Linked DNA regions of Homo sapiens: region 2 is linked to region 1. A link means that fine-mapping ties the variant in region 1 to the expression of a gene that starts in the linked region. Tissue or cell type: pituitary. Region 1 holds a variant in brackets; the other region holds the start of a gene. All regions are shown on one strand. Distances are from middle to middle.

Region 1 (8,258 bases):
TGTTTATATTGTAAGCCTCCTTAAATCCTTTTTGGAAGCATGAAGGGTACATATTAAATAACAAGTCGTAAAATGACAGAAATAGGAAAATGGCCTTAGAGGAGGGATGAGAAAGTTCTATTTTAAACTAGTTGGTTAGGGCTGTGTCAGTAATGACTCTGTCAGTGATGTGGGTTTTTTTTTTTTTTGAGACAGAGTCTCACTCTGTCGCCCAGGCTGGAGGGCAGTGGCGCAATCCACTGCAACCTCTGCCTCCTGGGTTCAAGTGATTCTCCTGCCTCAGCCTCCTAAGTAGCTGGAATTACAGGCACACGCCACCACAACCAGCTAATTTTTTGCATTTTTAGTAGTGACAGGGTTTCACCATGTTGGTCAGGCTGGTCTCGAACTCCTGACCTCGTGATCCACCCGCCTCAGCCTCCCAAAGTGCTGGAATTACAGGCGTGAGCCACCACACCCAGCCCCTAAGTCCTGTGGGTTCTATTCCTTAATTTCTCTTGAATCTTTCTGTTTCTCTACTGCCATGCCCCCTTCAAGCCATTCTCATTACAGAGTAAGTAACCTTCCTAAAGTACAAATTTCATCGTGGAATTCTGATGACTCTTCTCAGTCCTCTGGATGAAGAGCAAAATTCCTTAACATAGCTCACAAGGCCCTAAAGGATCTGGCCCATGCCTACTCCCTGCAGGCTTATCAATCTTTAGTCTCCTTCATGCTCTGGAGAATGAAAGTAGACTTGCAGGTCCTAGACCAGGATCTCAATGTCTTTACATACTCAGCCCATCCTGCTCTGTGGACTAACCTTTCTCCTTCTCCTGCTTTTCATCAAGCTAAGGTCTACTTTTCAAACTGTCCTCAGCTTAAACATCATCCCTCCAGGGATGCCTATCCTGATCAACAACTTTGGTTCAGATGTATTACCTTAACACTCTTACACCTTGTTTTAGTCCTTATCACACATTTTTTGTTTGTTTTTGAGACGGAGTCCTGCTCTGTCGCCCAGGCTGGAGTGCAGTGGTACGATCTCGGCTCACTGCAACCTCCTCCTCCCAGGTTCAAGCGATTCTCTGCCTCAGCCTCCTGAGTAGCTGGGACTATAGGCGCACACCACCACGCTTGGCTAATTTTTGTATTTTAATAGAGACAGGGGGTTTTACCATGTTGGCCAGGATGGTCTCGATTTCCTGACCTTGTGATCCACCCGCCTCGGCCTTCCAAAGTGCTGGGATTACAGGCGTGAGCCACTGTGCCCGGCCAAAGCCACTGTGCTCGGCCTATCACACAGTATTTTAACTGTTAACCCAGGCAGTTACCCCACTGGGGCATGGAGTATGTAAGGACAGAGCACTGTTTTTAATATTCTGTTTCCCTAGAGCCTAAAACAACCTATTACCGATGGCATGCTCTGGGTACTCAACACATTTAATAAACGGGTAGATTCAACTAATAAAAATTTAGCAAGTGGCAGCCCAGTCCGGACACCTCACACATAATGTTGAACAAAACAGACCATCTCTAACTTTATACAGTTTACAATGCAATAGAAAAGCATAAGCAAGTAAGCAAACCAAATCTAATTGCAAATTGAAATATGTTCTGTGGAAGAAATAAATGGGGACACTTGTTAGGATAGTCAAGGAAGGGTTATCTTCCTGAGAAAACATTTACACTGAGACCTGAAAGCTGAAAAAGAAGTGGGCTAAGCTCCTCTACTTTTGGAGCGGTTCCTTTCCATGTCTCAGGTGAATAATCCAGCAGTGGGCCAACGAGTATACATCGAGCAACTGTCTACTACTATGTGTGTGCCTCGTGTATGCTGGACGTCAGAAGTACAGTGAAAGATGCAACCACGCAAGTATACGGTAGGTTTCTGCCGTTCTCTGTTCTCTGGAGTGCCTCCGGAGAGCTTCTCCGTCTCAGGCCCCTTTGACCCCATCCAGAGCTCTCCCTTCTAGGACTCCACACTATCCGTTCCCCCGCCTCGCCCCCCGGCTCCGATTCACCCACCCAACTCGAGTATCAGCTCCCAGAGCTCCTCTCTATTCCCCGCCCTCTTCTTCTTTGTCCGGGGTTTCTCCCTTCAGGGCTCCTCTTTGCCTCCTCCCCTCCCTTTTCCCAGGCCCGGATCTTGCCTCTGTGAAACCCCCATAAGTCGTCTGGTAGAACTCATCTTCCTCCTCTGCCTCCAAAAGCCCAGAAAGCCGGTTCCCAGCGGTCTTCCGGGGTGCCCGGCCCCCAGCCAAACTCATACCGCCTACCGAGACTGCGCCGCCACCTGCAGCCCCTCACCAGCTCGGTTTTGGGAGCTCGACGCTCGACATCACTACCTGCGGGTGGCCACCAGCGGCGGAAGTCGGGCGTTTACAGGCAGAAGTAACAGAGTGTCGAGAGACTCCCAGTCCCACCCTCTAAACCCTCTTTACTCTTCAGCCTCTCCTACTCCTGCGCGGATGCTCTAGGCCGCTTGCTCTAGTACCCAGCGATCTCCCTTGCTCAATGAGTCCACTTGGTGGTACGAAGACCCCCATAACCCTAAGTCAACACATTTTATTTTATTTATTTTTATTTTATATATATATATGGTTTTTTTTTTCCGTAGGGACGGAGTCTCGCCTCGCTCTGTCGCCAGACTGGAGTGCAGTGGCACGATCTCGGCTCACTGCAACCTCCGTCCCCCGGGCTGAAGCGATTCTCCTGCCTCAGTCCCCCGAGTAGCTGGGATTACAGGCGCCCGCCACCATGCCCAACTAATTTTTGTATTTTTAGTAGAGACAGCTTTCACCGTGTTGGCCAGGCTGGTCTCGAACTCCTGACCTCAGGTGATCCGCCCGCTTCGGCCTCCCAAAGTGCTGGGATTACAGGCATAAGCCTGCGCCCCCAGCTCACATTTTCTTTTAGAAGAGGTCATTCTCTCCGCTCCAGTCCATTTTCTACACTGCTGCTAGTAGGAAACTTTCTAAAAACCCACGTTTTGCCACTCCTGTCCTCAAACATTTTTAATGGCTCCACATCATCTACAAGATAAAGTCAAAAATCCTTGAGGAAGGAAGCATAGTATTGTGGTTAAAAACACAGCCATAGACATTTATCCAAAGGAAAGGACATAATTCAACCTGAGGAAGCCAATTTAGGAGGAAAAAAAAAAAGGAAATCAGTATATCCAAGAGACGTCTGCACTCCATATTTATGCACCCCCATATTTATTGCAGCACTACTTAGAGTAGCCAAAATAGGAAATCAATCTCTGTGTCCAACAACAGATGAATAAAGGAAATAGGGTGTATATACACAATGGAATACTTTTCAGCCATTAAAAAGAAGAAAATCCTGTCATTTGCAGCAACATGGATGGAACTGGAGGACATGTTAACTGACTTAAGCCACGAACAGAAAGTTAAAACACTGCATGTTCTCACTCATATGTGACGCTTTTAAAAAGTTGATTTCATAGAAGTGAAAGAACAGAGGATACTGGAGGCTGGGAAGAGCAGGGGGAAGGAAGGGACAGGGAAAGATTTGTTAAAAGACACAAAATTGTGGCTCACACCTGTAATCCCAGCACTTTGGGAGGCCGAAGGGGGTGGATCATGAGGTCAGGAGTTCACGACCAGCCTGGCCAAGATGGCGAAACCCCATCTCTACTAAAAATACAAAAATTAGCTGGTCGTGGTGGTGGGCGCCTGTTATCCCAGATACTCGAGAGGCTGAGGCAGAGAATTGCTTGAACTCGGGAGGCGGAGGTTGCAGTGAGCCGAGATCGCGCCATTTGCTCTCCAGCCTGGGAAACAGAGCAAGACTCCGTCTCAGAAAAAAAAAAAAGACAAAATTGGGCCTGGCACAGTGGCTCACACCTGTAATCCCAGCACTTTGGGAGGCTGAAGCGGGCAGATCCCGAGGTCAAGAGATTGTGACCATCCTGGCCAACATGGTGAAACCCCGTATCTACTACAAATACAAAAATTAGCTGGGTGTGGTGGCGCGCACCTGTAGTCCCAGCTACTAGGGAGGCTGAGGCAGGAGAATCGCTTGAACCCGGGAGGCAGAGGTTGCAGTGAGCTGAGATTGTGCCACTGCACTCCAGCCTGGCAACAGAGCAAGACTCCATCTCAAAAGAAAAAAAAAAAAGACACAAAATTACAATTTTTTTTGAGACAGGGTCTCTATTGCCCAGGCTGGAGTGCAGCAGCAGGATCATGGCTCACTGCCTCCTTGACCTCCTGGGCTCAAGCTGTCCTCCCACCTTGGCTTCCAAAAGTGCTAGGATTACAGCTGTGAGCCACCACACTGGCCCCCAATTACATTTGTTTGTTCGTTTGTTTGTTTGTTTGAGATAGGATCTCACTTTGTCACCCAGGCTGGAATACAGTGATGCAATCACTGCTCACTGCAGTCTCGACCTCCTGGGTTCAAGTGATCATCGCACCTCAGCCTCGTGGGTAGCTGGAACTACAGGCTCGTGTCACCACGCCTGGCTAATTTTTTGTACTTTTTGTGGAGATGAGATTTCATCATGTTGCCCACGGTGATCACCTGAGCTCAAGTGATCCCCACTCCTCAGCCTCTCAATGTGCTGGGATTACAGGTGTGAGCCACCTCGCTTGGCCCCAAATTACATTTAGATAGGAGGAATAAATTCTAGTGTTCTTGGCCGGGTGTGGTGGCTCACACCT[G/A]TAATCCCAAAACTTTGGGAGGCTGAAGTGGGCAGATCACCTTAGATCAGGAGTTTGAGACTAGCCTGGCCAACATGGCGAAACCCCATCTCTACTAAAAATACAAAAATTAGCCGAGCACGTTGGCGGGTGCCTGTAATCCCACCTACTAGGAGGCAGAGGCAGGAGAATCACTTGAACCCCGGAGGCGGAGGTTGCAGTGAACCAAGATCGCACCATTGCACTCTAGCCTGGGCAACAAGAGTGAGACTCCATCTCAAAAAAAAAAAAAAAAATTCTAGTGTTCTATATCACTGGGGGATAACTATGATTAACAATAATATTTTCAAATAGCTAGAAGAAGGATATTGAATGTTTGTGCTGGAGACAAATAAATTATATATTTGTGAGGCCAGGCACGGTGGCTCACGCCTGTAATCCCAGCACTTTGGGAGGTTAAGGTGGGCAGATTATTTGAGGTCGGTAGTTCAAGACAAGCCTGACTGACATGGTGAAACCTTGTCTTTACTAAAAAGTACGCAAATTGGCCAGGAGTGGTGGCAGGTGCCTGTAGTTCCAGCTACTTAGGAGGCTGAGACATGAGAATCACTTGAAACCGGGAGGTGGAGGTTGTAGTGAGCCAACGTCGTGCCACTGCACTCCAGCTTGGATGACAGAGCGAGACACCATCTCAAAATAAATAAATAAATAAATGATACATTTTTTAGATGACAGATATACTAATTATCCTGATCTGATCACTAAACATTTTATGTATTGAAACATCACTATGTGCCCCATAAATATGTACAATTATGTGCCAATTAAAAATTAAAATAAAATAAAACAACAACAAAAAGAGAACACAGCTTTAGAGCCAGCCAGACCTGAATTTGAGTGTGAACTTTAAGGTCTTTTAGCTGTATGACTTTGGACAAGTTGCTTTACTTCTCTGAATCTCAGTTTTCTCATCTGCAAAGTGGGACTGATAATAATACCTATCTTTTAAGGTCGTAGAAGATTAAGAGATATAATTATTGGCCAGGTGCCATGGCTCACGCCTATAATCCCAGTACTTTGGGAGGCCGAGGCGGGTAGATCACAAGGTCAGTAGTTCGAGACCAGCGTGGCCAGTATGGTGAAACCCCATCTCTACTGAAAATATAAAAATTACCCAGGCATGGTGGCGGGTGCCTGTAGTCCCAGCTAGTCGAGAGGCTGAGGCAGGAGAATAGCTTGAACCCAGGAGACGGAGGTTGCAGTGAGCCAAGATAGCACCACTGCACTCCAGCCCGGGCGACAGAGCCACATTCTGTCTCAAAAAAAAAAAAAAAAAAAAAAAAAGACAGAGAGAGATAATTCTTGTCAACTGCTTAGCACAGTGTTTAGTAAGTGCATAGTAAATGTGTAGTAGGTGGTAACTACTACATGGCATTCAGTATTCAGATCCTTCATAATTTAGCCTCTCCCTGTCCTTCTAGTCACACCTCCTGCGACATCACTACTCCAGCATCTCTCCCCTAACACCCAATTCTCTGTCATGCCTCTATGCCTTTCTTTCTCCTTAGAATCCCTTTCCTTTCTTTTCTAATTTTATGGGAGAGTGGAGTCTTCCTGAACACCCATTCCTCTCTTTCCAGGCACAATTCATATAACTATGGAGATGATGTCTTCTGTAGTCTCTGGAATAGTTCCAATCTCAAATATTGTCTGTTGTAAAGACTGTTCTCATTTTTTATTCTGAAAATATGGTTATCAAACCATAGCACTTACACAAACTTTATGATGGCACCTATTACATTGTATTCTAATGATTCACATGTCTGTTCCCCTCATTAGTCTGTGATCTTTTTGAGGGCAGGGGCTTAATCTTTTCCTTTTTTTAATTAAAAAAAATTGTTTTGGAGACATGGTTTTGCTCTGTCGCCCAGGCTGGAGAGTAGTGGTGCAATTTTAGCTTACTGCAGCCTTGACCTCCTGGGCTCAAGTGATCCACCCATCTCAGTTTCCTTAGTAGCTGTGACTACAGGTGCGCACCACCACGCTCAGCGAATTTTTGTATTTTTTGTAGAGATAGGATTTTTGCCATGTTGCCCAGGCTAGTCTTGAACCCCTGGGCTCAAGCAATCTGCCTGCCTCAGCTCCCAAAGTGTTGGGATTACAGGAGTGAGCCATCCTGCCTGATGATGGGCTTAATGGTCATCTGTGTATTCCAGGAACTCTAATAGTGCCTGGGACGTAGCTTGGGCTAAATAATGTTAATTGAGTGAATTAATTAATGAATGATTAATTGAATAAATAGCCCATCCTCTTATTGTAGAATCCTTTCCTTGCTCTTGCCAGTCCCCATCACTTCATTCTAATCTTAGAAACTTTTCTGGCCGGGCGCAGTAGCTCATACCTGTAATCCCAGCACTTAGGGAGGCCGAGGCAGGCAGATCACGAGGTCAAGAGATCGAGACCATCCTGGCTAACACAGTGAAACCCTGTCTCTACTAAAGATACAAAAAATTAGCCGGACGTGGTGGTTTGTGCCTGTAATCCCAGCTACTTGGGAGGCTGATGCAGGAGAATCGCTTGAACCCGGGAGGCGGAAGTTGCAGCGAGCCAAGATCGCGCCACTGCACTCTAGCCTGGGCGACAGAGGGAGACTCTGTCTCAAAAAAAAAACAATAATAAAATAAATAAATAAATAAAATAAAGAAACTGTTCTAAGATATGAATGACACTTTAATAAAGGTGTGGGTGTGTACTCACATGTACTGAAGTCTGTACCTGTGGCCCTACTTTGAGGTCATCAGATTGTACCCCCTTTCCCAAAGTATGTATTGGTGAACTCCCTTTTCTGTTTCCTTGGGGCACTAAGCCAACATGTCCTGCTCTGCCCCTGTTTCCACACCCTGCCACGTCACCACAGTTCTACTATGCCAGGAATGTTACCGGGGAGGAGTGGTTCCATGACTCAGAGGACACCCCAGGTACTGAGTGGGAGTGGGGGCGCCCCAGGGACTGAGTGGGAGTTGGTGAAATTAAAAATAAAAATAGTACTTGATGAAAATAAAAATTAAAAATATAAAAAATTAGCTGGGCGTGGTGGTGCATGCCTGTAGTCCCAGCTACTCGGGAGGCTGAGGCAGGAGAATCGCTTGAACCCGGGAGGTGGAGGTTGCAGTAAGCCAAGCGCCACTGCACTCCAGCCTGGGTGACAGAGCCAGACTCTGTCTCAAAAATAAAATAAAATGGAATTCACAGATTAGCTCACAGGGAGAAGATTCCTCTGTTTGACTGCGTTGGTCATTCTGGGATTTATTAGTCTGTTTCCAATTTTAAAATCAGAAACAGCTTTACATCAACACCAGCCGATTTTTTTTTTTTTTTTTTTTTTTTTTTTGAGACGGAGTCTCGCTCTGTCGCCCAGGCTGCAGTGCAGTGGCACGATCTCGGCTCAGTGCAAGCTCCGCCTCCCAGGTTCATGCCATTCTCCTGCCTCAGCCTCCCGAGTAGCTGGGGCTACTACAGGCGCCGGCCAACTCACCCGGCTAATTTTTTGTATTTTTAGTAAAGACGGGGTTTCACTGTGTTAGCCAGGATGGTCTCGATCTCCTGACC
Region 2 (8,000 bases), 27 kb before region 1:
GCTTGCAGTGAGCCAAGATCGCGCCACTGCACTCCAGCCTGGGCAACAGAGCAAGACCCCGTCTCAAAAAAAAAAAAAAATAGTTAACTGTCTGACTCCAATAAGAACACAGAACCCAGTTTTCCACTGCCTCTACCCAGGCCAGCAGCCATCACCTCTGCTCATTATCTTGGGGCCACATGGGGGAAAGGTATCACCTTGCCTCTGTTGGCACTGTCCTTACTTACTTGTGTTTGTGGTTAGGTAAGACAGGAATGATGGAGGAGTCTAGGGAGGAACTTATAAGGAACCATTCAAGACTCACCCATTTTCCCCTTTTTTCAGCTTCTGAGCAGCAGCCTTCTTGGACAGGCTGATCTGTGAATCAAGCTTCTTAAGGAAATCAGAGGCAGAGAGGTCATGGATGGGCGTGGGGGTTTCCTGGCCAGGTGTGGGGAGGACTTCACCATTGGCACGTCCTGCTCCTGTCTCTTGTTTCTTCCTCTCAGTTGAGTGTGGCCAAACTTCACTGTTACTTGGGTGTACTTTTTCCTCTCCATCTTTCTCTTCCTCAGAGTCCAAACCATTGAACAGGTCTCTGGGCTCTGTCAGGATGGGGATGTAGAGGGTTTTCTTCAGGAAGATGGAGTCATTAGTATAAAGGCGGTTTGCACGTTTAATCTGTTCCATCTTAAAAAAAAAAGTCACCAAAATTAAGGACAGTAATAATGATCAATCTTACATCTTGAGCTTTTTAAAGTGACTGTACAGAGTCTTCTTTGATTCCATAACAACCAAGCTAAAGTACAAAGGGCTGACATTATTTCTATTCTATAGATGAGTGGTTTTCACACTTTTTGGTCTTAGGGCCCCCTTACATTTTAAAAAATTATTGTGCAAGCCAGGCGCAATGTCTGATGCCTATAATTCCAGCTACTCAGGAGGCTGAGGAGGGAGGATAGCTTGAGCCCGGGAATTAGAGTCCAGCCTGAGTAATATAGTGAGACGCCATTTCTAAAAATTAAAAAATTAAAAATAAATGAATAAATAAATTAATGAATAAATAAAAATGAAGGAACTGAGGCTCAGAGAGGTTAAGCTACTTTCCTAAAATTATCTATCAAGTTAATGACAGAGCTAGAATGACAATCCTGGGTCTTTTCACTGCTTCTGAGAATGCTTTTCACACTATACTATTAACAATGTCATTAATAAATATTTATTTTGACCTATTTATTCATCACTGGACATAGTGACTGGCATCACCATCTATCTGCCTGGCCTCCCAAGGTAGAAACATCAATGTCATCCTTAACTAATACTTGCCTTTCATCACCATACCAAGTGGTCAACAAAACTGCTTCAAAAATCTCTCTCACATCTGGTCTCACCTTCCTACTGCCAAAGATTTAAAATAGACCCTCAGTATTTCTCATCTGGGGTTATTGCAACAGTTTAACTGGCCTTCCTCGCTCTATTTCTACTCATCCTCCTCTTGGCATCTATCTTTCTAAAAAAATAAATCTGATTAACCCACTACCCACCTATGGCTCCGCACTGGCTAAAAGATAAAAACCAAATTAGCATTCAAGGGCTTTCTCAATCCAGCTCCCAAAGGAAATGTCTAGATTAATCTCCCTCTGCCACCTCTACATTTTGCTATCCTGAACTTTTTATTTTTCTTTGAACATTCCATGATCTTTTTCACACTTTATTCATGCTGTTACTTCTGCCTGAAATGCTCCCACCCCCCTACTATCCCATTCTCTGCTTGGAAAACTTGTATTCATCAACTATCACTCCCTTTGTGCTACCTTCTTCAGGGCTCCCAATGCATACTGTAAATATTGCTATAATAATACATAACCCTACTATAATATTATTCACCTCTTTAAATATCTGCTTTGCCTAAACCCTATAAGTCCTTTAAGGGCAAGGATTGTGACTTGCTGTCTCTGTATCCCCAGGAAGTCATTAGCATCCTACAGACCTTGACACATAGCAGGGGCTCATTAATGCTTTATTTAAAAACTATTACTTATAATTATGTAATTATTATCATAATTAGATAATGAAATATAGAAACTACAGATATAGTGTATTCGTATTTTCTTTCTTTCTTTCTTTCTTTTTTTGGAGACAAGGTCTCACTCTGTCGCCCAGCCTGGAGTGTAGTGGCGCGATCTCGGCTCACTGAAACCTCCGCTTCCCCAGCTCAAGTGATCCTCTGCCTCAGCCTCCCCAGTAGGTGGGATTACAGGCACATGCCACCATGCCCGGCTAATTTTTGTATTTGTTGTAGAGATGGGGTTTCACCACATTGCCCAGAATGGTCCTGTACTCCCGAGCTCAAGCAATCCACCCACCTCAGCCTCCCAAAGTGCTGGGATTACAGGCATGAGCCACCACGCCTGGCCCACCACAGCCCCTTTCCAACTGAAATTTAATCTTTTCTGATTTCCTATCTTTGTGTGTGTGTGTGTGTGTGTGTGTGTGTGTGTGTCTCACTCTGTTGCCCAGGCTGGAGTGCTGGAGTGCAGTGGTGCGATCTCAGCTCATCGCAACCTCCCCCTCCTGGGTTCAAGCGATTCTCCCGCCTCAGCCTCCTGAGTAGCTGGGATTACAGGTGAGCACCACCACGCCCGGCTAATTTTTGTATTTTTAGTAGAGACAGGGTTTCACCATGTTGGCCAGACTGGTCTCGTACTCGTAACCTTAGGTGATCCACTTGCCTCTGCCTCCCAAAGTGCTGGGATTACAGGGGTGAGCCACCATGCCTGACCCCTATTCGTTGTTAATACCTTTACAAACTCACCACATTCTGTCACTTGTAATCATTATTTGTGTCCCTGTTCATTTCTCATTAGGCCATAAATTACATGAGGACAGCAACCATATAGTTTAAGTTTCTATCTCCCAGAAAAGTTATCACAGTGCTTTAAATACAGCAAGCATAAAAATGTTGGCTAAATTCAACATTTGTTTGAGTGAGATGGAACAAGAAAACAGGGGCAGGGATAGGGGGAGTAACCCCATCAACTTCAATGCTGTACATTTTTACATCTATCCAATTTCCCCCATGCATGACCTGAAATACTTGGTGTAGAGTACCTGTTTTGCACAAAGGAGGCCACCTTACTGGAAAGAAGGCAGAGCATTGAGGAGGAACCAAGAGCAAGGAGAGGTGGGCACTTTAGGAACTGAGAACTAAAAATCAGCTCTCCATTAGTTGCTGTAAACGTTTAATCACTCTCAACATAAAATTTTCTGTGTGGTTAATAGAGTCAGACAGACCTGTTTGAATCCCAAATCTGACGCTCATTATTTGACCTTAGCCAAACTGGTTAACCAATCCAAGTCTCAGTTTCTTCATCTGCCAAAAGGGAACGATAAATGTATACTTGATACAGATGTGAGGGTGAAATGAGCTAACGTATGTGAAGCCCTCAGCACAGTGTCTGGCATAATAAAATAGGAGCTGTTCCTCTCCGTTGGAATAGTAGGGCAGGACTTGTGCAACACTGTGATGGGAAAACAAAGATAAAGGCAGAACAGAGTGCAACACATTAGGAACATTTCAGGGGAGGTTACCTAGAAGGGCCACTACATTCTTCTCAGGACTAAATCCCTCCTGACTGTTGTCTTCACCCCAATCCTGGAAAACTCACCGTCACCCCATATTTGAGTGCTAGTCCAGCCAGGGTGTCTCCGGGCTCCAACTGATGCTCCAGGCGTCTTTCCCTCACTGGGGAGCAGGCCGATTGCACCAGGCTTCCATATGAACGAGCCCGGCTCCCTTGAAGCAGTCCTGACCCCCCTGGCGGGGGCTGTCTAGACGGGGAAGCCATCTCTTCACCCTGCCAACAGCTAAGGTTGCAACTAGGGGAGGTACGACCGAGACTGCGACTGACAGGCCTGAAGTCTGGGAATGAATATTCAGGGGATTCCTTTCCCCCTCTCTCTTCCCCTGTGTCCCCGCCTCCCCAGCACTACGCCATCTGCCCCCTCCCGGTTTCTCCTCCCTCCAAGCTACTTATCCACAAATCTGTCCCTTGAGTATTCAGTCCCTCCCTAATTCTCCCCTAAGCACCCCTCCGACTTTGGACTCCCCCACAACTCCTCGCTACATTGACCTCTGACCTTTGAACTCTAGAAATAATCCTCAACACTCTTTCCTCAGTTTGCCCCCAAGTAGCCTGGCCTCAGGGCGCTCCAACATCCCAGCTCTCCCCGGTCCCGGGGTTTGTTTGCTAGAGTCAGGAACAAATCAGGCCCACCCCAGGTGAACTGTCGCCGCAGACGAAGAGCGTGAGGATTGCAAGAATTTGTAGTACACCTTCCACTCAGAGATCCTCAAAGGTCCGCTCCGCATAAGATAGGTCACACCCTCAAATTTCGGCTCCACATCTAGGTTGTTGTCCCTCCAAACGCCTCAGATCCGCCAAGATGCAAGGGCCTGGATCCAGTTGAGCGGCAAGGTCTTTGAGAAAAGACTTCATTTCCCAAAAGGCTCCGCGTCTGCGGAGTCGCAGGGCACCATAGGAAATGCAGTTCCCTCCGAGCACCAGAGAGTGGATTTCCGGATCGCGCAATGCATGCGTGGAAGTGCGTCCCCGGAAGTACGGAGGCCGACAGGAAGAGAAGGAAAAAAGAGAAGGCGCTGTCCCGCTCTTGCTACGGTGGCCTGGAGGAGTGGCGAAACCGGAACAGAGAATTTATCACTTCTGGGACTCACAGTCGTGATGTCTTTCAAGAGGGAAGGAGACGATTGGAGTCAACTCAATGTGCTCAAAGTAAGCGTGAGCGGAGAGGATCTGGAGCCGCTTCAGTCGCTCCCTGAAGGTTGGGAAGGAGCTTTGTTTCATTGCTCTGGCAACAACTCGGGGGTGCAGGAGAGAACCAGGCGACTTAGAGCTGTGTAGTGACTCCTTTTTCGGTCTATGATCGCTGTTCTCCCCAGGGTCCTTATTCCATTTCACTCCTCATTTCTATAATTTCACTTCCACCCCTCTCTCCTATCCCGCTGATCCCGTCCGGATTTCTTCCCCTACTCCCTGCAGAAAAGAAGAGTCGGGGACCTCCTAGCCAGTTACATTCCAGAGGATGAGGCGCTGATGCTTCGGGATGGACGGTAAGAGCAAGGAGTGGCTCAAGCCTGAGGGTTCTGCGGTTAGAGGCTCAATAGACTTTTTTTTTTTTTTCCTTTGAGACGGAGGTCTCGCGGTGCTGCCCAGGCTGCCCTCGAACTCTAGGGCTCAAGTGATCCTGCCTCCTCAGCGTCGCGATTAGCTGGGTTTACAAGCGCATGCCACCACGCCTGGCTTCAACAAACTTTTGTTATTAATTAGGACAGCAGGAGTACCTAGGATTCTTTGGCGGCCAGTGAGGACTGGAAGAAGTGGAGATTGGGTCACCAGGGAGTTGGGTTTTGCAAAGACTGCTAGGACAGGGTGGGACCTATGGCAGGGACGGGCCCAACCCTCTTCCCCTGGACCACTTATCCTCTTCTCTACCCCTGCTCAGCTTTGCTTGTGCCATCTGCCCCCATCGACCGGTACTGGACACCCTGGCCATGCTGACTGCCCACCGTGCAGGCAAGAAACATCTGTCCAGTAAGTTAGGGGGAAGACGGGATGGGGAATAAACCCTCGAAATCTCTGCACACCACTCTTGGTGCTATGCTTTTAATTCTGTTTCCCTTTCTCCTCAGGCTTGCAGCTTTTCTATGGCAAGAAGCAGCCGGGAAAGGAAAGAAAGCAGAATCCAAAACATCAGAATGAATTGAGAAGGGAAGAAACCAAAGCTGAGGTAATCAGAGAGTGGAGAGTGTGTTCTAGGCAAGACCCTGCTGCACACACCAGGCTGGAAGGGCGGAGGGCTGAAGGCTCTGACTCTGTCTCCCATCTCCTTACCAGGCTCCTCTGCTAACTCAGACACGACTTATCACCCAGAGTGCTCTGCACAGAGCTCCCCACTATAACAGTTGCTGCCGCCGGAAGTACAGGTATGGGACGGGAAAGCCAGAGGTAGGAAGGCTCAGAAGGAGACAGATGGCTCTAAAAGAGTTTTCCAGTGTGTATTCTGAGGAATACTAGTGTTCTGGAGATGTTACTTAGTGTTTCAAGAAAAGGAGAATTTTGGCTGGGCGCGGTGACTCACGCCTGTAATCCCAGCACTTTTGGAGGCTGAGGTGGGTGGATCACTTGAGGTCAGGAGTTCAAGACCAGCCTGGCCAACATGGTGAAATCCTGTCTCTACCAAAAATGTAAAAAATTAGCTGGGTGTGTGGTGTGTGCCTGTAATCCCAGCTACTCAAGAGGCTGAGGCAGGAGAATTGCTTGAATCCGGGAGACAGAGGTTGCAGTGAGCCACGGTCACACCACTTCACTCCAGCCTGGGTGACAGAGTGAGACTCCATCTCAAAAAAAAAAGAAAAGAAAGAAAAAGAAAAGGAGAATTTTGTGATTTTTAAATAAAGTTTGGGAAATGGCACTTTGTAATTCTACTTGAAGAATAACAGTTTTAAAAACTATACAAAGTCTTAAGATTAAAAAAAACTTGTAAAATTTTAAGCTAGCCTTTCCCAAATTCATGATTCTGAAATCCTTTGTATGCAGAACTTATTAATATCTTGAGAAATATAGTTTAAGAAGCACTGTTTTAAGAGGTTGGGAGTCATAGGAGAGTTGGCCCTTTCCCTTACTGCTTTTACAGACTATTCTTCTCTACCTAGACCAGAAGCCCCTGGTCCCTCTGTCTCCCTTTCCCCTATGCCACCCTCAGAGGTCAAACTCCAAAGTGGGAAGATCAGTAGGGAACCTGAACCTGCGGCTGGCCCACAGGCCGAGGAGTCAGCAACTGTCTCAGCCCCTGCACCCATGAGCCCCACAAGAAGACGAGCCCTGGACCATTATCTCACCCTTCGAAGGTGAGTATGCCTAATCAGTTTCCTCAGATTTTCTTTTCTCTCTGACACCCTTGTTTCAAAGCTATTGTTTTTCCTTTTTTTTTTTTTGAGATGGAGTTTCACTCTTGTTGCCCCAGCTGGAGTGCAATGGCACGCTCTCGGCTCACTGTAACCTCCACCTCCTGGGTTCAAGCGATTCTCCTGCCTCAGGCTCCCGAGTAGCTGGGATTACAGGCATGTGCCATCACGCCCGGCTAATTTTGTATTTTTAGTAGAGACGGGGTTTCTCCATGTTGGTCAGGCTGGCCTCGAACTCCTGACCTCAGGTGATCCACCTGCCTCAGTTTCCTAAAGTGTTGGGATTACAGGTGTGAGCCACCGCACCCGGACTCCCATTGTTGTTTTCCATCTTTGGTTTCGTTTTGTTTTAGCCACCCAACTTACATGGCTCTCAATTTTTTCTCACTGCTAACTTTTTTTTTTTTTTTTTTTTTTTTTTTGGTAGAGACAGGGTTTCACTATGTTGGTCAGGCTGGTCTCGAACTCCTGACCTCAAGTGATCCACCTGCCTCGGCCTCCCAGAGTGCTGGGATTACTGGTGTGAGCTCACCACTAACTTCTTAATAAGCCTCTTTCCTGATCGATGCTATTTTCTCTGATGTTTCCAGCTCTGGATGGATCCCAGATGGACGAGGTCGATGGGTAAAAGATGAAAATGTTGAGTTTGACTCTGATGAGGAGGAACCACCTGATCTCCCCTTGGACTGATACCCTTTTCCCATTCATTCACAAATAAATTACAATGGGTGCTGAGAACTTAACTTTCCTTAAGTCTGGTTCCTTGTTGGATCTCAGGATTTCAGATCTGTTCATTCTCATTCCAACTACTCCTTGCCTGCAAGGTACACAGCTCTCCACACTCCTTTTTTTTTTTTTTTTTTTTTTGAGGCAGAGTCTCGCTCTATCGCCCAGGCTGGAGTGCAGTGGCACGATCTCGGCTCACTGCAAGCTCTGCCTCCCAGGTTCACGCCTTTCTCCTGCCTCAGCCTCCTGAGTAGCTGGGACTACAGGCGCCCGCCACCATGCCCAGCTAATTTTTTGTATTTTTAGTAGA

Which allele goes with the higher level. Positions count from the first base shown, and alleles are read on the strand shown. Sizes are in standard deviations (SD) of each study's normalised expression.
As copies of A replace G in region 1, the expression in pituitary of the gene that starts at base 4,471 in region 2 goes down (moderate effect, 0.67 SD a copy in GTEx).

What was found. PIP is the estimated chance that this variant, and not a neighbour inherited with it, causes the effect.
Region 2: LYSMD1 starts here. The variant in region 1 is fine-mapped to the expression of LYSMD1 in pituitary (GTEx, PIP 0.99).

The regions. Positions count from the first base shown.
Region 1 is chr1:151,187,873-151,196,130 of GRCh38, forward strand. It overlaps VPS72 (vacuolar protein sorting 72 homolog), which reads right to left and starts at 2,325. Exons shown (of 6, transcript NM_005997.3): 1 at 2,133-2,325. The coding sequence starts at 2,249. It also overlaps a transcript of PIP5K1A not described here. RefSeq lists enhancers at 2,300-2,369, 2,410-2,469. The variant G/A (reference allele first, on the strand shown) is at 4,671.
Region 2 is chr1:151,161,432-151,169,431 of GRCh38, forward strand. It overlaps LYSMD1 (LysM domain containing 1), which reads right to left and starts at 4,471. Exons shown (of 3, transcript NM_212551.5): 1 at 3,648-4,471; 2 at 305-669. The coding sequence starts at 3,827. TNFAIP8L2-SCNM1 (TNFAIP8L2-SCNM1 readthrough) reads left to right here. Exons shown (of 7, transcript NR_144937.2): 2 at 5,040-5,110; 3 at 5,503-5,591; 4 at 5,690-5,787; 5 at 5,895-5,983; 6 at 6,718-6,907; 7 at 7,555-8,000. It overlaps SCNM1 (sodium channel modifier 1), which reads left to right and starts at 4,713. Exons shown (of 7, transcript NM_024041.4): 1 at 4,713-4,772; 2 at 5,040-5,110; 3 at 5,503-5,591; 4 at 5,690-5,787; 5 at 5,895-5,983; 6 at 6,713-6,907; 7 at 7,555-8,000. The coding sequence starts at 4,722. The coding sequence ends at 7,654. RefSeq lists enhancers at 3,953-4,658, 4,412-4,691, 4,659-5,365, 4,712-4,761.